Linked DNA regions of Homo sapiens: region 2 is linked to region 1. Evidence: fine-mapped expression QTL. A gene starts in region 1. The other region holds a variant in brackets. All regions are shown on one strand. Distances are from middle to middle.

What was found.
Region 2: its variant is fine-mapped to the expression of TCHP in left ventricle (GTEx, PIP 0.93).

Annotation. Positions count from the first base shown.
Region 1 is chr12:109,896,429-109,904,760 of GRCh38, reverse strand. TCHP (trichoplein keratin filament binding) reads right to left here and starts at 4,487. Exons shown (of 13, transcript NM_001143852.2): 1 at 4,335-4,487; 2 at 1,547-1,734; 3 at 614-824; 4 at 1-24. The coding sequence starts at 1,734. RefSeq lists enhancers at 3,083-3,923, 3,924-4,764 and a silencer at 4,157-4,266.
Region 2 is chr12:110,057,562-110,065,893 of GRCh38, reverse strand. It overlaps a transcript of C12orf76 not described here. Among named protein-coding and RNA genes, the nearest start is that of C12orf76, 13 kb to the right of the region's middle. RefSeq lists an enhancer at 12-101. The variant A/G (reference allele first, on the strand shown) is at 4,168.

The DNA of each region.
Region 1 (8,332 bases):
TTCGTACAAAAGTTGTTCAGCAATCTATCAAGAAAACACAAAATGGAAAGCCTGATGTCATTTTTCAAATCCATTCACATTTTGGATGACACACAGTGGAAGTCAGCTCAGGCTATGAGTGCCTCCCTTCACACCGTCACTGCAACCACTGTTCAAACCCTCATGCTTCACATGCACAGCTCTGAGAACCACATGGCACTACCAAGTGACTCTTGCAATGATGACAAAAGGGGGCCAAAATCTGATGCTACACAGAGGTCCTATCTAGGGGGTCTCAAAATAATACAGCAGGCTGAAAAGCACAGATTAGGGCTCACTGTTTCACATAACTACTTTGGAAGGTAAAACAGACTAGTCCCAGATCTCTGTGGACCCACAGAACTGGAAGAAAGGAAAAGCACTCAGATGTAATGATTGAAGGGGCTAAAGAGACTACAGCTAACTGATCCAAAACCCAGTCCCTGCACAAGGACCTAAGCTCTTTTCCTGCTGGCTCTGGAGTTAACTGGCATCTCATCAGACCTGAGCACCCAGGAATGACCCTACATGTGCGACACACTCAGGCTGGGAACACTCCTGCTCCACAGCCTCCTGAAGCCCTCTGGGGAGTTACCAGTTTCCTCTGCTCTTCTTTGGCTGATTTCAGCTTCCCGTGCTGCTCCCGGATTCTTCTTTCCTGCAAGTTCATGCTCAGCCTCAGCTCCTCCAGTTCTCTGGCCAGCAGGTCCTGCTCCTCCTGCATGAGCTGCCTGAGCTTTTCCCGTCGGGCCTCCAGACTCCTCCTCTTCTCCTCCTTCATCTTCTCCCGCTGATAGGCATGCATGCTGGGTGAGAGGGGGCCTGCCTGAATCAATCATGCTACAGCCACAGGGAACGTGCTCTGCTCTGCTGTGTCGGTAAAAGAGGCTGAGGTAGATGTGTCATGACGACACAGGAATGTGTCCCCAGCCAAAGCAGAGACAGCAGGTCACAGAATAGTATGTGTAAGAGAAAATCTTGTTTTTTGCAAAAAGAAAATGTATAAATGTATAAATAATGTATATATTATCCATCACATAAATCCTACAGCATAGGTCTGCTGTAGCCCCACTTGATTGATGAGGAAACCAAAGCTCATACATTCAGCAAGAGACACGGTCAGGATTTCCATCTAGGTCTGACTTCAAAGCCTATGCTTTTGGCCTCCATGTTTTTACACGTATTTCTATAAAAGTAGCTTTGTGTGTGTATATTTAAGCACAAATACCAGTGGGAAACAGCATGGAAGGATATGTGCCAGACTGTTAACTGTGGCTGTCTCTGGGGATATGGGGTTACAACCAGGCTTCCAAATTCTATCATATGCTTCTGCATCATTTTATCTTTTTCAATGCCAATGTATGGCTGCACTGATGATCTTTTTTTCCATTTCCAGCTGGAAAAACATCACCATGCAGGTAATTCATACTGCCTGGCAAATCCTACGCTCCCTAAATCCTTAAGGCCTCATCCCCTGACCAGCAAGTGGTCCCCACTTCCATCCAATCGGCAGTTACCGCACAATTACCTCCGCTGGTAGGAGGTTTTAGAGCTCCATTCTGCCTGTTTGGAGCTGCAGATGTCAGACATCCTGAAGTAACGGCTGTTCTGCTCCCACTGCTGCCGAAGCCGGGCCTCCTGCTCTCGCTGTCGTGCTAGCTGCTGATTCAGGCGCTGCTGGCTGCACCAGTAGGACGGCAGCGTCGGGAGCGCCATCTGAGAACAGGAATGGGAGGAAAGTGAGCCACTGCAAATCCCAGGAACCCTCACCAGCTTGGCCTCATCCCTTTAACGAGTGGTCACCACCCCTTGGCTGCACAGTGAAATCAACTGGTGGAACTTTAAAACAAACAAACAAACAAAACCGTGTCTGAGCCCCACTCCAAACTAATTCAATCAAAAAACTTAGTAGGGCCCAGGCACCAGCATTTTTTAAAATGATCTGCCACTAGTGCTGCAAATCATCCTTTTAAATTTGCCGTGGCTCACGCCTGTAATCCCAGCACTTTGGGAGGCCAAGGTGGGCAGATCACGAGGTCAGGAGTTCGAGACCAGCTGCGCCAACATAGTGAAACCCCTGTCTCCACTAAAAATACAAAAAATTAGCCAGGCGTGCTGGTGGGCGTCTGTAATCCCAGCTCCTTGGGAGGCTGAGGCAGGAGAGTCACTTGAACCCAGGAGGTGGAGGTTGCAGTGAACCAAGATTGTCCCACTGCACTCCAGCCTAGGCGACAGTGCAAGACTCCATCTCAAAACACAACAAAACAAAACAAATAAACCTTAGCCAGACACAGTGGCTCATGCCTGTAATCCCAACACTTTGGGTGGCTGAGGCAGGAGGATCACTTGAGGCCGGGAGTTGGAGACCAGCCACATCATGAGACTCATCTCTATAAAAAATCAAAAATTAGCCAGGAGTGGTGGTGCGCCTGTAGTCCCAGCTACTCAGGAGGCTGAGGCAGGAGGATTGCTTGAGCCCAGGAGGTCACGGCTGTAGCGAGCCATGATAGCGCCACTGCACTCAGCCTGGGTGACAGTGAGACTCTGTCTCAAAAAAACAAAAACATAAAAAATTCTGGACTGCGTGCACCCAGCTGTGGGCCAGCCATCACCAGGAACACAACAGACAGACACAGGGATTGTCCTAAGATTGCTAGACTAGGCACATCGGGGGCATTTATGCTGTGCTTAAACAGAGACAATAATGTAAGGAACACATGTATGTGCCAAGCACTCAATACATATGACTTTTTTTCATTCTTACAATCACCTCGCTATTTGGCAGGTAAGGAAACTTACGTTGAAGAGGTAAAGTTGTTGTACCCGAGCGAGTTAGAGAAACGCCACAGTTTGAGACGAAATTAAGAGTCCTTTATTTAGCCAGTGCCCAAGAGACGGCTAATAAATTCTCTTGGCCCGAGGAAGGGGCTTGATTTTCCTTTATACTTTGGTTTAGGAAGGGGAGGGGAGCTCAGATGCAACAATTCTACATAAGTAAAAACATGCAAAAATTAAAAGGACAAAGAGTCACAGAGAAACAATTAAAAGACAAATGGTTACAGAGAAACAACAGTTCCAGGTGCAGGGGCTCTAAATCTTTCATAAAATGTTAGATATGGGTGCTCTGCCCGACACCAACTCAAGGTTTTATGGTGTTATCTTTTGAGCAAAATCCTGGGAACTTCGTACATTGCTTGTTTCAGTACCTTATCAGTTAATTGGACTCTTTGATATGTTGAGATTCTGCTTACACAAGTTAACTCCTTGAGGAAAGGGGTGGGTAAGGAGTCCTTGATGTCTTGTAAATGAGGGAACCAGATGGAGTTCATCCGGCTTTCTCAACTAAGGGAGAGCTAATTCATGTGGAAACAAGGCTAGGTGATTAAGGGGAAAAAAAGAGTCTAAAAGCAAGGTTAGTAAAAACAAGGTAAGGCATTAAAAAACAAGGTTAGTAAAAACAACGTTAAGCATTACAAAGTGATTTGCTCAGGATCACAGAGCCAGGAAGTAAAGGAGATAAACAAGCTGGGTTCCTAATTCATGTCCGTCTGAGACCAGAGCCCAGGCTCTCTCTGCTGCAAGGGGCTGCCTGTTGGGACCAACCTGCCCTGGCTCTGGCAGTCCCCGGGGAGGGGACTGATAATAACACTCGGAAGTATGTTGGGCTACCATGGAGGACAGACCTTTCATCTTGCAGATGAAGAAGCTGAGACCTAGAGAGAGGAATTGCCTGAGCAATGTAGGGATACAGCTGGAGCCTTGAAAGCAGAGAGCAGTCTCACTCCAGGCACCAATTCCCCTGACCCAAAAGCTGTCCTCAAGTGTAGGGTCGATGCAGTGCCTGGGTAGGAACGCCGGCTGAATGAGCGAAAAGGCCTGGTGCACGCCAAGAATCTCATTCTGGAGGTCCTCCAGTTTTGGGGGCAAACACTCTGCGTCTATGGTCCAAATGTAGCCGGCAGGCTGCTAACGTGTGACCTCGGTCTCGAGACCGTGGCAAGCTTCACATACTTTTTTCCCGCTCCCGTAAAGCCGCCAGTGGATCAGTCTTTGCACCAAGAGTTAAAAGTTTAAGATTCCCGTCCCGGATTGGCCACCCACAAGGTGGGCTGCTCCCCGAACACGTCGCATCCCTCTCTCGACCTGAACATGCACGTGCAACAAATGGGGTCACAGCGCGTGGGGAGCGCAGTGAGGACCCCGGAGGCGCCCTGAGCTCGCGCCCGCTGACTGCCGCCCCGGTTCCCGCCCGCGCGGGCCGCCTGCGGGCCCCCGCCCTAACGCCGGATCCGGCCTAGTCCAACCCTCCGACTCACATTTCTCTGAGGCTCGGAGTTTCCGAAGAGTCCCCCGGCCCGACTTCCCGCAGGCACGAAGCGGGCCGGCCAGTCCCCCGGTGTAATTCCCAGACGCGCTACAGCAACGCCGGCTGTTTCCTCCCTGTTTGCACCGGCAACGAGCCCGACGACGGAGCGTCGCAAGGGCCAAGCCTCCTTCAGCGCGTAGGGAGCCTGTGTTTTTCTCTGGTGCCCCGTCGTGGCCAGCGGGAGATAAATAGCAAACGTCGCTGCTCCTTGAAATAGGGAAGCATGGAGGCAAAGAATCCGTCCATGCACTACACGTATTTCAGGATGGTGGTTACCATCACGTGAAGGTGAAGGTGGAAACCAGGGGGAAGAGAATGTAAGTCAGTGGTCCTCAAACCTGGCTGCGCGTGAGAATCACCAGATACCAGCCTGGGCAACACAGAGGGACTCCTGTCTCTAAAAAATTTTTTAAACTTAACCGGGCATGGTGGGACTTGTGGTCCCAGCTACTCGGGAGACTGAGGCGGGAGGATCAGTTGAGCCCAGGAGATCGAGGCTGCCGTGAGCCATGACTGTGCCACTGCACTCCAGCCTGGGTGACAGAGCCAGACACTGTCTCAAAAAAAAGAAGAAAAAATCCAGATACCTTTAAAAAATCCAGATGCCCAAACCAAACCCCAAATCCCATCTGAGAGTATCAGTGTTTTCCAAAATTCCCCAGGTGTGTTCAATGTACAACTTGGGCAGAGGCCTGCTGGCATAAGTAGATGGAAGTTATTGGTAACTTTTTTATTTTTTTGAGACAGAGTCTTGCTCTGTCGCCAGGCTGGAGTGCAGTGGCGTGATCTCGATTCACTGCAACCTCCGCCTTACGGGTTCAAGCGATTACCCTGCCTCAGCCTACCGAGTAGCTGAGACTACAGGCGCACGCCACCACGCCCAGCTAATTTTTTGTATTTTAGTAGAGATGGGGTTTCACCATATTGGTCAGGATGGTCTCGATCTCCTGACCTCGTGATGCGCCTGCCTCAGGCTCCCAAAGTGCTAGGATTACAGGAGTGAGCCACTGCACCCGGCCGATAACTTTCTATTATAGTCTTATATTGGTGGTGAGTTCAAAAGTGTTCATTCTATTAGTATGTTTTATAACTCGTGTGCTACAAGTATTACATGCCAACTATTCCATTAAAAAGAAAATGAAGAAAAATACTTGTTTGTTCTCTTTTCTTTCATTTTCCCATTCTTTCATTTCTTCTTCCCTTCATTTCTCCATTCTTTATTCATCTCTGTTTTTCCTGGATGCAGCATCATGGCCTCAGCTGGGTTCAGTGGCTTACGCCTGTAATCCCAGCACTTTGGGAGGCCCAGGAGGGTGGATTACCTGAGGTCAGGAGTTGAAGACCAGCCTGGCCAACATGATGAAACCCCGTCTCTGCTAAAAATACAAAAATTAGCCGGGCATGATGGCAGATGCTTATACTCCCAGCTACTCGGGAGGCTGAGGCAGGAGAATCGCTTGAACCTGGGAGGCAGAGGTTGCAGTGAGCCAAGATTGCGCTGCTGCACTCCAGCCTGGGTGACAAAGTGAGACTCCACCTCCAAATTAAATAAATAAATGAATACATAAATAAATAAATAAAATTAGCAGGCTGTGGTGGTGCACACCTATAGTCCTAGCAACTTGGGAGGCTGAGGTGGGAGGATCACTTGAGCTCAGGACAAGGAGGCTGCAGTGAGCCGTGATCACACCATTGCACTCCAGCCTGAGTGACAGAGTGAGACCCTGTCTCAAAACATGGTCTCTACAGTCAGAACGCCCAGGTTTCAAGCTATACCATGCTGGTGTAGTCTTGGGCAGGTCACTTCATCTGTCTGTGCCTCAGCTTCCTAGTCCATGGAATGAGAGTAAAAATAGAGCAACTTTCAGGCCGGGCCTGGTGGCTCATGCCTGTAATCCCAGCACTTTGGGAGGCCAAGGCTGGCGGATCTCTTGAGGTCAGGAGCTTCAGACCAGCCTGGCCACATGGTGAAACCCCCGTCTCTACTAAAAATATAAAAATTAGCTGGGCGTGGTGGCAGGCACCTGTAGTCCCAGCTACTCGGGAGGCCGAGGCAGGAGAATCGCCTCAACCGAGGAGACGGGGGTTGCAGTGAGCCAAGATCATGCCACTGCACTCTAGCCTGGGCAACAGAGCAAGACTCTGTCTCAAAAAACAAAGCAAAACAAAAAATAGTGCAGCTTTCTAGGGTTGCCCGTGTGAGAATAAATGGAGCATGCCCAGGAGTAGAGCATCCAGTGCATCCCAGGTGAGCCCAAACTTGAGCCTTCCTTCACATCCCCCTTTAGTTGGCACCTGTTTAATCAGGGTCTGTCCCACTGCGTGCATAAGAGTCCTCAAGTTTCCCTCCCATTAATCCCTACCCCCTTGGGCAAATTCATGGCCACTCTTTCATGTTGTGTCCCCAGTGCAGAGGGGTGGCAGCAGCCCACTGCAGTCACTTAGCAGAGATGCCCACCCAACAAAGGAGACCAACACATAAATGTCTGTCGACAGGAACTTCATAAACACATGAATTGGACCAGGCGTGGTGGCTCACGCCTGTAATCCTAGTATTTTGGGAGGCTGAGGCAGGTGGATCATTTGAGGTCAGGAGTTCGATACCAGCCTGGCCAACGTGGCGAAACCTTGTCTCTACTAAAAATACAAAAATTAGCCAGGTGTGGTGGCATGCACTTGTAATCCCAGCTCGGGAGGCTGAGGCATGAGAATCACTTGAACCCAGGTGGCAGAGGTTGCAGTGAGCCGAGATCTGACCGCTGAACTCCAGCCTGGGCAACAGAGGGAGTCCCTGTCTCAAAAAAAAAAAAGAAAGAAAGAAAGAAAAGAAAAGAAAAAGAAATATGTGAGTTGGGGCAAGGTAAGGGAGACCTGATCCTGATTTTGTGCCTCTTGGGCAAGGCCTTTCCACTCTCTGGGCCTCAGTTTCCTCATCTGTATAATGACCAGATAAGCTCCACTAGCAGAACTTTAGGGCTTAGGGCTCGACCAGCATGCCGGAGGGCAACCATTCCTAAGTGGCCTGATCCTGGAAGCCTGAAGTCCCCAGATTACAGCCTCCATTCTCTTTTGCTGGCCAGACATCCTCACCGGCCCCCACAGTTCAACTCTGAACCTCTTGATTACACAGCTGCTGGCTGTCGCTATTAAGCAACTTTACAAGTGCCTTTTCCTTTGCTCCTCTTGGGCATTCTATGAGATATCTTATTGCCCCCATGTTAGAATTGCCTAAACTAAGCCTCGAAAAGGTGGCATGGCTTGCCTGAGGAGCCGCAGCTGATAGGTGGTTGAGCCATGATTTGAAACCAGTTCTGCCTGATCCCAGTGCCTAAGCCCTCTTGCTGCAACACAAGAGCAGGGATCATCGTGTTCCTTGCTGCATTCCCCATGCCATGCCTTGTATGTGGTAAGCACTCTATCTATCTATCTATATATCTATATCTATCTATATATATATTTGAGACAGAGTCTCACTCTATCACCCAGGCTGATGGAGTGCAGTGGTGCGAACTTGGCTCACTGCAGCCTCTGCCTCCCAGGTTCAAGCAATTCTCTTGCCTCAGCCTCTTAAGTAGCTGGGATTACAGGTGCCCGCCACCACGTCCGGCTAATTTTTGTATTTTTTTTCAGTAGAGTTGGGGTTTTGCCATGTTGCCCAGGCTGGTCTTGAACTCCTGACCTCAGGCATCAACCTCCCAAAGCGCTGGGATTACAGGCATGAACCACCATGCCCGGCCTCAATCAATATTTGTGTTGAGAATGAAAAAGTGAATGGATCCCCTATTTTGAGTACTTTCTTCTCCTCCAAAGGAAAAAGGAATCTATGGTGTTAAGAGAAAGCAAAAAGAAGAAAAGGAACGAGCATTTCTTGAACACCTGCTATGTGCCAGGTGCTTTGAGATATATTATCTCATTTAAGCCTCCCTCCAACCTGGGAGGAGTTTGTTC
Region 2 (8,332 bases), 160 kb before region 1:
GAGGAACAGCAAGGACAGCATGTTCCAGAACCTGGTAAGAGAGGAGGGTAGAGCCAGACCAGGGGGCAGGACAGGGGAAGAGTTGGAATTTGATTTTCAGTGCCATGGGAAGCCACTGAAAAGTATTATGCAGAGAAGTGAAACCATCTGACTCATGTTTCTAGAAGCTCTCATGGGCCACTGTGCAGAGCATAGAGTGTGGTGGGACCAGAATGACGGTGAGGGACCAGTGAGAAGGTTGCTGGAGTCACCAGATGCAAGGGATGGAGACTTGGGCTGGAATGGGATGGTGGAGCCAGAGAGATGTGGACAAAGCTGGGATGTGTTTTGGAGGCAGAACTGATGGATTTGCTAGGAGGTGAAGGATGGCTCCGGATTCCTGAGGGATTGATGATGCCTTTTACCAACTTGAGGAGAGATCAAGGAGTGGGCACGGTGGCTCACTCCAGTAATCCCGCACTTTGAGAGGCCAAGGCGGGCAGATCACCTGAGGTCAAGAGTTCGAGACCAGCCTGGCCAATGTCGCAAAACCCCGTCTCTACTAAAAATACAAAAATTAGCTGGGCGTGGTGGCAGGTGCCTGTAATCCCAGCTACTCGGGAGGCTGAGGCACAAAAATTGCTTGAATCCAGGAGGCGGAGGTTGCAGCGAGCCGAGATTGCACCACTGCACTCCAGCCTGGGTGATACAGCGAGACTCAGTCTCAAAAAAAAAAAATGTGTATATATATATATGCACATATACACACACACACATATATGTATACATATATAATAAAAATAATAATAAATAAATAAAGGATCTCAGGCAAGCAATTAAACACCGCCTACTACCATCTATCTTCATCCCTTTGTTCATGTCTAACACCAAAACACCCAAATAGCTGAAAGCACATTATCTCAAAAGATAAGCATGGTTTTTTCAAATGAATGGCTATAGCCTTATGAAAAGCTGCCTTGGTATCTGGTTTTCTTGTTTTGAGGGGCAAGGATGGAGGCTTCTCTCCTGCACCCACAGGCCACTGGGGATACCGCCCCAGCCCAGCCTCCCACCCTGCACTGGAGCCTCTCAGCCCTCCTGCTTGGGTAGCACAGTGTTGAGAAGAGGAAGGAGCAATTTGTCTGGCTTCTTCACAGGCCTGCAACTGGCGTGTACAGTGGCCGAGAAGGCGAGGCCAAGGTGGGGCTGGGGAAGCTAGCAGGGGTGAGATCGTGGAGCACCTTGAGCTGCATCTGGGGGGCACTGAGAAAGCATGGAGAGCTGTCCCCCCAAACCCCAGCATCTTAGTAGAAAATATTCAAACATACAGAAAACATGAAAGGTTTTACGCTATTTTCATTTTAAAGACATTATTTTGCTTGAAACATAACAGCTACTGAGTGCTGCTGAGGTCTTAGCATGTGCTGGGTTCCATTCTTAGCATGTGACATGTATTGGCCTATTTGATCCTCCTACATAATCCTATAATATTGGTTGTCGGAGTGGTTGATCATGACCTGAACGGCCACATGTTTGGGGAACTCTCTGTATTATGAGTTCCACTCCCTAATACATGTCACAACTGAATGTCCCAGGTTCCCTTGCAGCTAGGACACAGTATGAGACCCAAGCTTTCCAAAAATATGCCCCAGGCAACACTTCCATATACAAGGAATCACATGGGATGCTGGGTATGAGCAGAATTCAAATTCAGGAATAGAGGGAAGTATTGCCCTTTGACCCATACAATAGGGGATCCCTTTCCCTGGACCCCATGCCTTAAAGGGCCCCACTCTGTTCCTCTGCAGACTGCTAGCTCCCCTATGGAATGAGGATTGTCTGAGGCTGTATGAGTTTCTATTTGTTACACAGCGGTGGAAACTAACACAGTCCCACAGGCCTAAATCAAGGCATCAGCGGGCTGAGTTCTTGTCTGGAGACTCTGGGGAAAAGTCACTTCCAAGCTCATTGGTTTGTTTGTTTGTTTGTTCGTTTGTTTGTTTGTTTTGAGACAGAGTCTTGCTATGTTGCCCAGGCTGGACTGCAGTGGCGTGATCTTGGCTCACAGCAACCTCTGCCTCCTGGGTTCAGGCAATTCTCCTGTCTCAGCCTCCCAAGTAGCTGGAATTATAGGCACCCGTCATCATGCCTGGCTAATACTTGGGAGCCTGAGGCTGGAGAATCGCTTGAACCTGGGAGGCGGGCATTGCAGTGAGCTGAGATCACACCATTGCACTCCAGCCTGGGCAACAAGAGCAAAACTCGGTCTCAATAAATAAATAAATAAATAAATAAATAAATAAATAAATAAAAATAAAAATCCCTCACCAGGCGTGGTGGCTTATACCTGTAATCCCAGCACTTCGGGAGGCCAAGGCAGGTGGATCACTTGAGGTCCAGAGTTTGAGACCAGCCTGACCAACATGGTGAAACCCCATCTCTACTAAAAAAAAAAAATACAAAAATTAGCCAGGCGTAGTGGTAGGCACCTGTAATCCCAGCTACTCGGAGGCTGAGGCAGGAAAATCGCTTGACCCCGGGAGGCAGCAGTTGCAGTGAGCTGAGATTGCACCACTGCACCCCACCCTGGGTGATGAGAGCAAAACTTCGTCTCAAAACAATAAAAAATAAATAAAAATATTGAGACAATTTTAAAAATTAAATTAAAAAAGGGGGGCTGGGTGTGGTGGCTCATGCCTGTAACCCCAGCACTTTGGGAGGCTGAGGCGGGCGGATCACTTGAGGTCAGGAGTTCAAGACCAGCCTGGCCAACATGGTGAAACCCTGTGTCTACTAAAAATACAAAAATTAGCTGGGCGTGGTGGCAGGTGCATGTAATCCCAGCTACTCAGGCGCCTGAGGCAGGAGAATCACTTGAACCTGGGAGGCGGAGGTTGCAGTGAGCTGAGACATACCACTGCACTCCAGCCTGGGCAGCCAAGCGAGACTCTAAAAAAAAAATCTCTTTATTCAGCCCGCTGCAGGGGTTCACCCCTATAATCCCAGCACTTTGGGAGGCTGAGATGGGAGGATTGCTTGAGCCCAGGAGTTTGAGACCAGTTGAGAACAGCTGAGCAACAAATTGAGATCCCATCTCTAAAAAAAAAAAAAAAAAAAAAAAAAAAATATTAGCTGGGCATGGTGGTGCACACCTGTAGTTCCAGCTACTGGGGAGGCTGAGGTGGGAGGATCGCTTGATCCTGGGAAGTTGAGGCTGCAGTGAGTCGTGTTTATGCCACTAGACTCCAGCCTAGGCGACAGAGTGAGACCCTGTCTCAAAAAAAAAAAAAATCTCTTTTTTTCTATATTTTTCTCAACTTTATTGAGGTATAACTTACATATCATAAAATCACCCATTTTAAATACACATTTCAATGACTTTTAGTAAATTTACCAAGTTGTTCAACCATTACCGTGATCCAGTTTTAGAACATTTCATCAGCCTAGTAAGAGCCCTCATACCCATTAACAGTCACTCCCCACTCCCACTCTCTCCCCATGGTTGCTCAACCCAGGCAACCATGAATCTACTCTATGCCTCTATAGATTTGTCTTTCCTGGACAATCTTTCTTCTTAAATTCAGCAGAGTAAATTCTGTTGTTTAAAACTGGAAACCCTGCCGAATACAATACTAATATCTTCTTTTTTGGGAGATGGAGTCTCACTCAATCACTCAGGCTGGAGTGGAGTGGCACGATCTTGGCTCACTGCAACCTCTGCTTCCTGGGTTCAAACGATTCTCCTATCTCAGCTTCCTAAGTAGCTGGGATTACAGGCGTGCGCCACCACGCCCAGCTAATTTTTGTAGTTTTAGTAGAGAGGGGGTCTTACCACGTTGGCCAAACTGGTCTCGAACTCCTGACTTCAAATGATCCACCCACCTCGGCCTCCCAAAGTGCTGGGGTTACAGGCATGAGCCACCACGCTGGGCCCTAATATCCTCTTATTACAGAAGAAACAATGACTCAGAAAGGTTAAGTCACTTGTCCAAGGTCGTGTAGCCAGTAAGTGGTAGAGCTGAGATTGAACCTAAGCATCTCACACCATAGTCCATGCTCTCATTAAAGTATGCAGTGTAGGCTGGGAGTGGTGGCTCACACCTGTAATCCCAGCACTTTGGGAGGCTGAGGCGGGTGGATCACGAGGTCAGGAGTTCAAGGCCAGCCTGGCCAAGATGGTGAAACCCC[A/G]TCTCTACTAAAAACTACAAAAATTAGCTGAGCGTGGGGGCAGATGCCTGTAATCCCAGCTACTCAGGAGGCTGAGGCAGGAGAATCACTTGAACACAGGCAGCAGAGGTTGCGGTGAGCCAAGATCTTGCTGCTGCACTCCAGCCTGGGTGACAGAGTAAGACTCCGTTTCAAGAAAAAAAAAAAAAAAAGTATGCAGTGTGCAGTATAGAGAGTGGAGGGGACAGGGTAAGACTGGAGGAAAGGAGACCATTTAGGAGACCATTGGGTTGTCCAGATAGGAAAGCTGATGGTGACCTGGACTGAGGAGGTAGTAGAGGCAGAGGAGAGAAGTAGATGACTTCGAGCAATATTAGAAAGGTAAAACAGTAGGATTTGGCAACTGAATGGGTGAGGGGGAAAGAGGGAGAGAATGAGTCAAGGAGTGTGCCATGTTTCTGGCTTGGACAACTGATAGGTGCTGGAATAACTTGCTGGGATAGGAAATGCAGGAGAAAGAGCCAATTTGGGGTGGAAGATGAGGTCAGAACTGAAGGCATTGAGTTCGAAGTGTTCATGGAACATATGCATGTAGATGTTGAATAGGTGGTTGGATATATGAATCTGGAGCTGAGATGTAGGTTTCTTTTTTTTTTTTTTTTTTGAGTCAGAGTCTCTGGTCTCCCCCACAGAGCTGGCTCTGCATGAATTACTCTTCCTCTATTGCAATGAGCTAAGGGATATGAGGGCAGTTGTGCGATCTTAGCTCACTGCATCCTCCGCCTCCCGGGCTCAAGTGATTCTCCTGTCTCAGCCTCCTGAGTAGCTGGGATTACAGGTGCCCGCCACCACACCTGGCTAATTTTGTATTTTTAGTAGAGATTGGGTTTCACCATGTTGGGCAGGCTGGTCTTGAACTCCTGGCCTCAGGTGATCCGCCCACCTCAGCCTCCCAAAGTGCTGGGATTTCAGGCATGAACCACTGCGCCTGGCCTGAGATGTAGGTTTCTATATCACCAGCATATAGATGGGAACTAGAACCATGGAAGAAGCTGCAATTCACCAGCAAGAGAAGAAGTAGATGAGAAAGCAAGAGGGCCTAGAACCGACCCCGGAGAAGGGCTAACCTTTAAGGGGTGGGAGTGCTGAAGTCCCCAAAGGATTCTGAGAAGGAGTAGCCACAGAGATCCAATGAAAGTCAGGCAAAGGTGGATTCCTGCAAGCTAAGGGAAGGAGGTGAGGGAGGTGGGGCATGGTCACAGTGTCAACTGGTGCTGAGAGTTCCAGGAAGATCAGCTATGTGGTGTGTCTATTGGATTTAGTGACAATGACGTTGTTGTTTACTTGGCAAGAGAGGCTTTAGAGAAGGGATGGGGGTGGGAGCCAGACTGGAGTGGGCGGAGGAGTGAATGGAGATGCAGAAATGGATATGATGACTCACTCTTTCAGGGGACTTGGCTATGAAGAAGAGAGGCATGGAGTGGTGGTAAGAGAATGTGGGATTGAAGAGGGGGTATTTTGGAGACAGAGTTTCACTCTTGTTGCACAGGCTGGAGTGTAATGGGGTGATCTCGGCTCACCGCAACCTCCGCCTCTGGGGTTCAAGCTATTCTCCTGCCTCAGCTTTCTGAGTAGCTGGGAATACAGGCATGTGCCACCATGCCTGGCTAATTTTGTATTTTTAGTAGAGAAATGATGTTAAGTGCAGATGGAAAGGGGACAGGAGAGAAAGGGAAGTTGATGTGGTAAATGAAAATTATCTTCATCATCTTCCTCACCATCACCAGCAGTAACCACAAGGAAAGCTTGTTCTGCTCTGGGACTGCCCTGTCACTTTTCTTCCTGAGAAAATGAGCCAAAATCTTTCCCCCTGTAACTTTCACCTTTGCTTAGTTTTGCCTTGTGTCCCTCTTCAAATGGCTGCACACTGCTACTATGTCTCTCCTCTTCTTCAAACTCACAGCCTCCATCCTACAGGCCATGTGCTCTCAGCCTGGCGACCAGACCCTCAACTGTCTCAACCAAGTTCACACCGCTTGTTTGTCAAGCCCCTCTTAAGAGGCAGTGTACACACTCTTGCTTTGGTGATGGAAGCATGAAATGGTTCAAGCATTTATGATTTAGGAAAATAAACTCAGATAGAAAATGTGCACACCCTTTGACCCAGAAGTCCTGTATAGACTTAATGCCTTAGGTGTGTGAAGAAGCTTGTGCAGGGATTTCTGGCAACATGAATGTGGGGTGGACAGACAGTGAGCACAGTTGTTAGGAGCATAGCCTGAGTGCATTCTTCCTGAGATCAGGAACAGGACGAGGATGCCCGCTTTCACCGCTGCTGTTCAACATTGTACTGGAAGTTCTAGCCAGAGCAATTAGACAAGAAAAGCAATAAAAGGCATCCAGATGGCAAAGAATGAAGTAAAACTATCTTTAATCACAGATGGCACAATCCCATATATGGAGAATCCCGAAGAATTCACAAGAAAACTATTAGATAGAGCTAATTAACCAATTCAGTAAAGTCGCAAGGAACAAGATCAACACACAAAAATTAATTGTGTGTGTGCATTTTTTTTTACACCAGCAAGGAACATTTGAAAAGGAAATTGGAAAAATAATTCCATTTACCATAGCATTTAAGAGAGCTGAGGCTGTGGAGCCAGATGGCTGCGTTCAGAGCTGGCGCTGCTGTTTACCATGTGACCTTGGACAAGCTTCTCGCTTCATTCATACCACAGTTTGTTCGGCTATTAGGTGGAGGTAATACTAGCACCTTCCTTATAGAGTTGGTTTTTGTTTTCATTTTTTTGGTGGGGGGGAGTAAGAATTGCAAAAGTTAATATATGTCAGCAAAATAGACTTAGAAGAGTGGTTGGCACATGGTAAGGACATATTAGGGTTACCAAAAATTGTTTATAATTGGGAAAATTGAACAAAAGTTACAGTTAAATATCTATCCCAGAGACTGACTGGCAAATTATCACAATGTACCTCTTAGCTTGAGCCATATGGAACTGCCTGTATTCTATAGCTATGGCCTACAAAATGGGCAGTTCTTTCTTTCTTTTCTTTTTTTTGGAGAGAGAGTCTCACTCTGTTGCCCAGGCTGAAGTGCAGTGCAGTGGCATGATCTCGGCTCACTGCAACCTCCGCCTTCCAGGTTCAAGTGATTCTCCTGCCTCAGCCTCCCAAGTAGCTGGGATTACAAGCATGCACCACCACAACTGGATAATTTTTGCATTTTTAGTAGAGACAGGGTTTCCGCCATGTTGGCCAGCCTGGTCTTGAACTCCTGGCCTCAAGTGATCTGCCCGCCTTGGCCTCCCAAAGTGCTGGGATTACAGGCGTGAGGCACCATGACCTGCCAAAATGGGCAGTTTCATATATTCAATCACTAGGATACTCTTTAGCCACTGAAAATGATTGTGTATCATAGATCTATCTTTATCACAGATATCTTTACTGTCATAGAAAGAATTAATAACATATTATTGAGTAAAAATAGCAAGTTACAAAACAGCCTGCAGCCTGTAGTGTGGCCACGTTTGTAACATCAGTATATCTGTTTGTGTGTCTAGGTGTGGACATAAAGAGATATCTAGAAGACACTCAAAAGTTTCAACAATGATTGCCTGAGTGATTTGTGCTGGGATCTTCTTTTTTTTTTTTTTTTTTTTTTTTTGAGACCGAGTCTCTCTCTGTTGCTCAGGCTGGAGTTTGCAATGGCGTGATCTTGGCTCACTGCAATCCCCGCCTCATGGGTTCAAATGATTCTCCCACCTCAGCCTCCCGAGTAGCTGGGATTATAGGCGCCCACCACTGTGCCTGGCTAATTTTTGTATTTTTAGTAAAGACGGGGTTTTGCCATGTTGGGCAAGCTGGTCTCAAACTCCTGACCTCGAGTTATCCACCTGCCTTGGCCTCCCAAAGTGCTGGGATTACAGGCGTGAGTCACTGCGCCCAGCTGGGATCTTAATTTATATTTTTTCTTTTTAGCCCTTGATTTTTACCCTGTTAGACTGACTTTAGGAATCTAACCCCCAAAAGTGGAAAGGAATACATTAGTGTTGTTGAAAGCCACTAAGTTAGTGGTAATTTGTTACAGAAACTAATATAATTGGGATTTAACTTGCCTTGGGGGTGCTGGCTCTCCCCCATTTTCTTCTCAGAGCATCTCTTGGGTCCT